Linked DNA regions of Homo sapiens. The protein of the gene in region 1 purifies or fractionates together with the protein of each later gene. This does not show direct contact. Each region holds a gene or a part of one and is shown on either strand. Other genes may lie near its edges.

Region 1 (5,439 bases):
ACTACAAATACTGGGAAGAAAGCAAGCCAGGTCTGGAGAAACGTTCCATGCTGAGAGAAAGAGTGTAGGAAGAAACTGCTTTTGCAGATATTCTTCAACATACCTGTCTTTTCCCTGTTCTTTACTAGTCTGTCTTCTGTCCTTTAATTCCTGCCACTAATCTGATTTTCTAGTATCAAAAGCTGTATCCCTTTCTTGCCTGCCTACCTCACTGTACTTAAACACTTATATTTATTTCCACCTAAATTACACCAACATTTATGAAATAAAATGTATTCATGAAATAAAGTTAACTTTTGCTTTTATGTTTTCTCCCTTCCTTTCTTCAAAAGGTACTACTGGGACTCATCAAACAAATCTTTCTGGGAAATGTGCACAACTTGGATTTTCACAAATATGTGGTAAAACTGGCAGTGTGGGTTCTGACTTACAATTCCTAGGGACAACTAGCAGTCATCAAGAAAAAGGTATAAGTTCCAAATTTACTTGGAAACAAATGACTTATAAATATTATGTGGGGATTCCAACACTAACTTATATGATATTTTGTGTACTCATACTCATCACAAAAAATAAAAGGATTTTGTTATATTTTTAATAACTTTTTTCATAATTGTTACCCTAAAGTATTAGTTTTCATAATCTTTATATAAATACAACTGATTAAAATTAGAGTTTAGATACTCATGGTGGAGATGAGTATTGCATTTGCTTTGATATATACATAATAGTGGTACATATTTGTGGGGGACATGTGACATTTTGATATACAATGTGTAATGATCAAATTAGGCTATTTAGGATATGCATCACCTGAAACATTTGTCATTTCTTTGTGTTGGGAACATTACAAATCTACTCCTGTGGTTATTTTGAAGTACATAATAAAGTATTGTTAACTATAGTCACCTTATTGTGCTATACTGAGCACTAGATCTTACTCCTTCTTATTTTATTTTATTTATTTATTTATTTATTTTGAGATGGAGTCTTGCTCTGTCGCCCAGGCTGGAGTGTAATGGCAGGATCTCGGCTCACTGCGACCTCCGCCCCTGCCCCCGGGTTTTGAGCAATTCTCCTGTCTCAGCCTCCTGACTAGCTGGGACTACAGGTACACGCCACCACGCCCAGGTAATTTTTGTATTTTTAGTAGAGACAGAGTTTCACCATATTGATCAGGGTGGTCTCAAACTCCTGACCTCAGGTGATCCACCTGCCTCGGCCTCCCAAAGCACTGGGATTATAGGCATGAGCCACTGTGCCCGGCCTCTTATTTTATTTTTGTACGCATTAACTACCTTCTCTTTATTACCTACTTCTCACTGCCCTTGCCAGCCTCTGGATACCATCATTCTGCTCTCTACCTCCATGGAATTAATTTTTTTTCTTTTTTAGCTCCCACATAGCAGTGAGAACATGCAATATTTGTCTTTCTGTGCCTGACTTATTTCACTTAAGATAATGTCCTCCATTTCTATCTAGGTTATTGCAAATGACAGGATTTCATTCTTTATATGGCTCAATAGTTCTCCATTGTGTATATGTACCACATTTTCTTTATCTGTTCTTCTGCCGATGGACACTTAGGTTGATTCCATAACTTGGCTATTGTGAATAGTGCTGCAATAAACATGGAAGTGCAATACCTCTTTGATATACTGATTTCCTTCTTTCGATATATGCCCAGCAGTGGGATTGCTGGATCATATGGTAGTTGTATTTTTAGTTTTTTGAGGCAGGGTCTCACTCTGTGGCCCAGGCTGGAGTGCAATGGCTCACTGCAGCCTCGACCTCCCGGGCTCAAGTGATCCTCCTACCTCAGCCTCCCAAGTAGCTGGGACTACAGATATACACTACTATGTCTGGTTAATTTTTAAATTTTTTGCAGAGATGGGGTTCTACTATGTTGCCCAGACTAGTCTCGATCTCCTGGGTACAAACAATCCTGCCTCAGCCTCCCAGAGTGCTAGGATTACAGGTGCAAGCCACCATGCCCAGCACATTTTTAGTGTTTTGAGGAACTTCCTTGCTGTTTTCTATAGTGGCTGTACTAATTTAGCTTCCCACCAGCAGTGTACAAGCATTCCTTTTTGTTGCCATCCTTGCCACCATTTGTTATTTTTTGTCTTTTTGATAAAAGCTATTTAACTGGAGTGACATGATATCTTATTGTGGTTTTGATTTGCACTAGACCTCTACCTTTCACTGTATGCAAAAATCGAATCAAAATTTATTGAAGACTTAAATGTAAGCTGACGTTATAAAACTGCTAGAAGAAAACATTAGTGAAATACTTCAGGACATTGGTCTGGGCAAAGATTTCTTGAGTAAGACCTCAAAAGCACAGGTGACCAAAGCAAAAATGAACAAATGGGATCACATTTAGCTAAAAAGCTTCTGCATGGCAAAGGAAACAGTCAACAAAGTGAAGATACAGCTTACAGAATGGGAGAAAATATTTGCAAACGATTCCACTGTTGAGGGATCAATAACCAGAATATATAAGGAACTCAAACAATTCAATAGCAAAAAAACAAAAATACAATGTGAAAATGGGCAAAAGATCTGAGTAGGCATTTCTCAAAGAAGACATATACATGTCTAATAGGTATATGAAAAGCTCAACATCACTAATCATCAGAAAGATGAGCATTTTAATACCAAGTCATTGAAAATAACATTATCCATTAAAGAGTGTTGTGTTAGCAGATGACAATTATTTTCCGTAACAGTTTTAAATTTTAAGACAATTTAGAATGTATTATGTCTCTTATTAGGAACCGTAACTTCCTAAAAGCTACCCTTTCAGATAAGACATAAGATACAGAAGAGGAAAGATTGGAGACCGGTTATCAGTCAGGAATTTGGGGGTTGAAGGTGTTCTTAAATGTCCATGCTAATTAACAGCTTTAACAATTATTAGATAGAGGTAGGATCAAATTAAGTATTTCTTTAGGTATTTTAAATTTTATTGTATGTCCTTTACTAAAATTTGAGTGATAGGGATATACTTATTTATTTATGAAAAAATAATGATTTGAAATTAGTAGAGAAGATTTCGTGTATTTAGCACTAACATTTTAACTACCCTTTTTTGCACTCACCCCAAAGACCCACATAACTCCTTAAAGATATCCTTTGTGGTATTATCTGCATCACAAAATAATCCATCTTTCTTAATAATGTGGGTATTTCCTAAATTTTGACTCCTGAGTATCTTTGGGACTCATAATTGGTATAATCAGAGAGAGCTTGCTGTGCCACTTAACCTGTTCCTGTTTAGGCTATCCCTGAATAATTACATTGCCTTTGAGGACTATCCACTCTTAGTGTTTAGTCATATTGCACAGTGGCTCTCTGGTTTTCTATTGGAATAGTTATTAGAGAAGCTGGTATAAAGGGATACCACGTTTTTCTAGAATTTAACTTAATACTTGGTTATACATTAAAACCACTACCATCTCAATTAATATTCCCCTTGTGATCTTTGAAGGACCTATGGTATGGATGCAAAACAATATAGATGTTTGCATCCCAATTTACATATTGTAGTGATCCACACCAGGTGTTGGAAATTTTGGTGTATGTTGCATTGCATTGTTTTTATGTATATGCATAGTATGATAGGATGTTTGATTTCTTCATAAGAAATATTTTTAAATCTCGGCTGTGTGCGGTGGCTCACGCCTGTAATCCTAGTGCTTTGGGAGGCCAAGGTGGGTGGATCATGAGGTCAAGAGATTGAGACCATCCTGGCTAACACGGTGAAACCCCGTCTCTACTAAAAATTACAAAAAAACTAGCCGGACATGGTGGCGGGCACCTATCATCCCAGCTACTCGGGAGGCTGAAGCAGGAGAATGGTGTGAACCCGGGAGGCAGAGCTTGCAGTGAGCTGAGATCGTGCCACTGCACTCCAGCCTGGGCGACAGAGCGAGACTCCATCTCAAAAAAAAATAGAAAGGAAATATTTTTAAATCTCTAGGAATATATGAGACATTGTCATGAAAGCATCAGAACCTGTTAATAGAGCACTGTAATTGAAATGAGGAAACTGAAAGTTTTAATTCTATATGTAAATCTGTGACTAAATCTCCTATATCTCTCTACCTAGATAAGATTTTGGTATAAGTAGAGATTTTAACCATGTCAGATATGAATTAAAAAAATAAAGGATATATAATATATACAGTTGTTTAAGTCCTCAGAAGAATGTTTGCTTTATTAATATACGTACGCTAGGTATTTTGTCACGGAAAACATTTTTTAAAATATTAAAGGAAAACTTAAGGGAACCCCTAAAAGATTACAAATAGACTTTTTATATTCGTTGAAGAATAAAAAGATCAATAAAAGGCAAGGAAGAAGTAATAAAGAAAAAAATAATAAATAGTACAAAATAAGATGGTAGAATTAAAATCAAATGTATGAATAGTTTCCGTAAGTATAAATTGGCAGAACTTACAACTTAAATGACAGAGGTGATCAGATCTTGTTTTTTTAGTTTTTCATTGAAGTGATCTTTTTAAGAGCATTACCTAAAATACATCAAGATAGGTTGAGAGAAAGTAAAGCATGGAAAAGATACACTAGGCAAATGTTCAGAGAAAAGCAAATAGAAACATGTTGATGATAGGGAAAATATGCACACCAAAACTAAAAACATTTTTAGTTCTAGAGAGGATCATTGTAATGAGAAAAAGAATAATTCACTAAAGAAACAAGACTTCTCTGACATGTGTGTATATGTATACATATACATGCATGTATGTATGTAATTGATAAAATTACAAGGAGAAAGTTAATTTATAAATGTTAGTACAATATTTTAATGGGATAAAGAAGTTTTGAATTAGAAGATACAGAATATTTGAATAACACAAATTAAATTAGTCCTTTACCTCATACCATACAAAAATATACATGCCAATTGGGATGAAAACCTGAATGGGAAAAGCAAAAAGCAAAAAAGCTTTTAACTGTTAAACTGTGTATACATAAATAATATATTATCTTTTGTTTTATTACAGTGTATGCTAGCCTCAATTTTGGCAGTAAGACACAGCAAACATTTGGTAGTCAAACAGAGTGTACTTCCTCAAATGGTCAAAATCCAAGTCCAGGAGCTTACATCCTTCCATCCTATCCTGTCTCATCACCTCGAACTAGTCCAAAGCATACATCTCCTCTTATTATATCTCCAAAGAAGTCTCAAGATAATTCTGTTAATTTCTCAAATTCCTGGCCTCTTAAAAGCTTCGAAGGACTATCAAAGCCAAGTCCACAGAAGAAGCTTGTCAGCCAAAAATCGTCTGATCCTACGGGTAGAAATCATGGTAAAAGTCAATACTTTGTTCAAATTTATTTGTGTTTGAATTAGTACTTTGAAGTTAATGCATAGGGCTGTTAGATCTTTAAAAGCTAGTAAACTACATTTTA
Region 2 (3,500 bases), on another chromosome or scaffold:
GTCCCAGCTATTGGGGAAGCTGAGGCAGGAGGATTGGATCACTTGAGCCCAGGAGATCAAGGCTACAGTGAGCTTATGAGCATGCCACTGTACTCCAGCCTGGGCAACAGAGCAAGACCCCATCTCAAAAAAAAACACTAAAAATAGAAATATATATATATATATATATTTACATATATAGTTTTAGCAAAATATACTTCAAATCAACAAAAGTTGATAAATTCTGGCCAATTTCTTTTGTTGTTTTTTGTTTTTTAGAGATGAGGTCTCGCTCTGCTGCCCAGGCTAGTGTGCAGTGGCACGATCATAGTTCATTGTAACTTTGAACTGCTAAGCTCAAGTGATCCTCCATGTTGGCCACCAGAATCACTGGGATTATAACTGCCAGCAACCACACTCAGCTTATTTCAGCTTTTTTTTTTTTTTTTTGAGATGGAGTCTCGCTCTGTCACCTAGGCTGGAGTGCAGTGGCGCGATCTCGGCTCACTGCAAGCTCCACCTCCCGGGGTCATGCCATTCTCCTGCCTCAGCCTCCCGAGTAGCTGAGATTACAGGTGCCCACCACCATGCCCAGCTAATTTTTTTGTATTATTAGTAGAGACAGGGTTTCACTGTGTTAGCCAGGATGGTCTCAATCTCCTGACCTCGTGATCCGCCTGCCTCGGCCTCCCAAAGTGCTGGGATTACAGGTGTGAGCCACCGTCCCGACTTATTTCAGCCATTTTTAATTTGCTAATAGTCACGAAAGATTTTTCCTAGTAAAAATTCTGAACTCAACAGCAAACAAGTTTTCATGTTTAAAACAATCAATCCTCAAAATCCTCTAATCTTCCCTAAATATTCTATGTCTGATAGGAATAAAATGATGAGATAACGCATATATTTTGCTATAGAATTTTGCACAGAATTTAAACAGAAATGTCATTTATCTAGGTTGGGGGCGGTGGCTCACGCCTGTAATCCCAGCACTTTGGGAGTGTGAGGCAGGTGGATCACCTGAGGTCAGGAGTTCGAGACCAGCCTGGCCAATATGGCGAAACCCCGTCTCTACTAAAAATACAAAAATTAGCCAGGCATGGTGGTATATACCTGTAATCCCAACTACCGGGGGACACTGAGGCAGGAGAATCGCTTGAACCAGGCAGGTGGAAGTTGCAGTGAGCCGAGATCATGCCACTGCACTCCAGTCTGGGCAACAGAGTGAGACTCCATCTCAAAAAAAAAAAAAAGAAAGAAAAGAAAAAAAAGAAATGTCATTTATCTAAAAAGAAAAAAAAAACAGTAACATGCCACCTTCACATGGAACTAAGGTTTCCATACCACCTAATAACAATTATTAATTTAACATGTTCATTTACATGTTGTTCTAACCAGGCTTTGAAAGATCTCCCTCTTGAATTTATAGATGCTTATCTTTCTCTTTACTGTAATTATTTAACATTATAAATTATAGAACTGATTTTAACTTACAGTAATCAAAAGTACAAAAAGTACAAATAAAACATACTTTTAAACAACCATAGTAAATATAGCATATGCCATAACTAAAACATAAGATTTATCCGAGATATAAGTACATTTCTAATCATTTCTAAATTTTTCCTGTATCTAATCTGATTAGATTATAATGACTTTAATATTAAAGAGTCAAAGACACTAATGAGCTTTCTCCTGGTAATGATCTCCAGCCAAAGAACACCAGGAAAACTACCACAGTTAAGTTGGATGTACTACTCATTGCATTAAGGAATGCACGGAGAACACACACCATGGGGAACCCTGTGGTATCGTGGTAAGAGGGTATTGGAAAAGACTTATATGTGTTGGGTGATTTGGGGGAAGGCTTAATTTGAGGAAGTGGAGCTTTGCTCAGGATTGAACACTGTTAGAAGTGGGGTTAATTCTATGATGGTACCACTCAATAAATCTAAAATATAGGGGGAGGCTAATGCTGTAACTGGTAAACAAGCAGTAGTCATTCACATCAGCTGGGAAAGGGAATGTTTGGTATCTCGGTTCTTGGACAATATTTACGTTTTGTCTGTGTTTGGAGACACTGATGGAATGTTTTTGTCTTGATCCATCATAGACACAGAGCGGCCTTATCTGATGTTGACATTCTGTACAATAGTTTATCTTCAACAGAAAAACACAAAGTTACTGTGAATGCCAGGCTAGTTTCTAGCAATACCAGTTTCTAGATATCACGGCCACTTTTCTTTTTCTCACTCCTAAAAGCATGTGGTAACTTACAGAAAACATATTTCAACTACACAATTATTCAAGAATTACTTGGTGAATCACAGAGACTGGGTTAATAAATATGGCATAGGTACAATATAGAGTAAGAAAGTTTATAATTTAAGGATTAAGTTGCCAAAAATAAATCAGCTGAAAGAAACCTAAATGAGATTATTTATATATGACACTCTACAATATAAAGTCACTCACAACTTTTTTCAAGACATCATGGCCAAGTATTATTTCTCCAGTAGCTGTGTACATAGTATGTAGATGATAAACAGTTTTCAGGAAAATAGTTTAATTGAAAGAACTGAGTTTGAAATATACTTCTATCACTTATTGATCTCAACATGAATGACCTCAAGCATGTTCCTTAACTGCTCTATGCCTAATCTATAAAACAGAAATATCATTTATTCTAGTATATTATGAAGAAAAAAGAAAATAATGCATATAAAAATTATGACAGAGAACCTAACACTTAGAAATCAACAGATCAGGCCAGGCGCAGTGGCCCATGCCTGTAATCCCAGCACTGTGGGAAGCCAAGGAGAGTGGATCACCTGAGGTTAGGAGTTTGAGACCAGTCTGGCTAACACAGCAAAACCCATCTCCACTAAAAATACAAAAATTAGCCAGGCATGGTGGCACACCTCTGTAGTCCCAGCTACTCAGGAGGCTGAGGCAGGAGAATTGCTTGAACCCAGGAAGCAGAGGCTGTAGTGAGCCCAGATCACGCCACTGTACTACAGCCTCGATGACAGAGCAATACTCTGTCAAAAAAAAAAAAAAAAGAAATCAACAGATCAATTCTTTTATTGTTTATGGTTGTATCTTTACAGTCTTTGCATATATGAAGATTTACCTCTTAAAAACAGAGCCTGCAGCCGCGCGTTGTGGCTCACACCTGTAATCCCAACACTTTGGGAGGCCGAGGCGGGCGGATCACGAGGTCAGGAGATCAAGACCATCCTGGCTAACACGGTGAAACCCCGTCTCTACTAAAAGTACAAAAAATTAGCCAGGCTTGGTGGCAGGCGCCTGTAGTTCCAGCTACTCAGAAGGCTGAGGCAGGAGAATGGAGTGAACCTGGGAGGCAGAGCTTGCAGTGAGCTGAGATCGTGCCACTGCACTCCAGCCTAGGTGACAGAGCGAGACTCTTGTCTCAAAAACCAAAACAAACAAACAAACAAACAAAAAAAACAGAGCCTGCAAACGTAAAGTATGCTGAGATTTAAATAATCAATAATTGATAC

The links.
Region 2: the proteins of TOGARAM1 (region 1) and CSPP1 purify together in Homo sapiens (co-immunoprecipitation; one large-scale study listed by IntAct). This does not show direct contact.

The regions. Positions count from the first base shown.
Region 1 is NC_000014.9:44,999,031-45,004,469, forward strand, and holds part of TOGARAM1 (TOG array regulator of axonemal microtubules protein 1), read left to right. Parts: intron 1-332; coding exon 333-467; intron 468-5,030; coding exon 5,031-5,336; intron 5,337-5,439. UniProt on the Homo sapiens protein: Involved in ciliogenesis. It is required for appropriate acetylation and polyglutamylation of ciliary microtubules, and regulation of cilium length.
Region 2 is NC_000008.11:67,067,392-67,070,891, reverse strand, and holds part of CSPP1 (centrosome and spindle pole-associated protein 1), read right to left. Parts: intron 2,793-3,500; exon of another isoform or gene 2,088-2,792; coding exon of another isoform or gene 2,035-2,087; intron 1-2,034. UniProt on the Homo sapiens protein: May play a role in cell-cycle-dependent microtubule organization.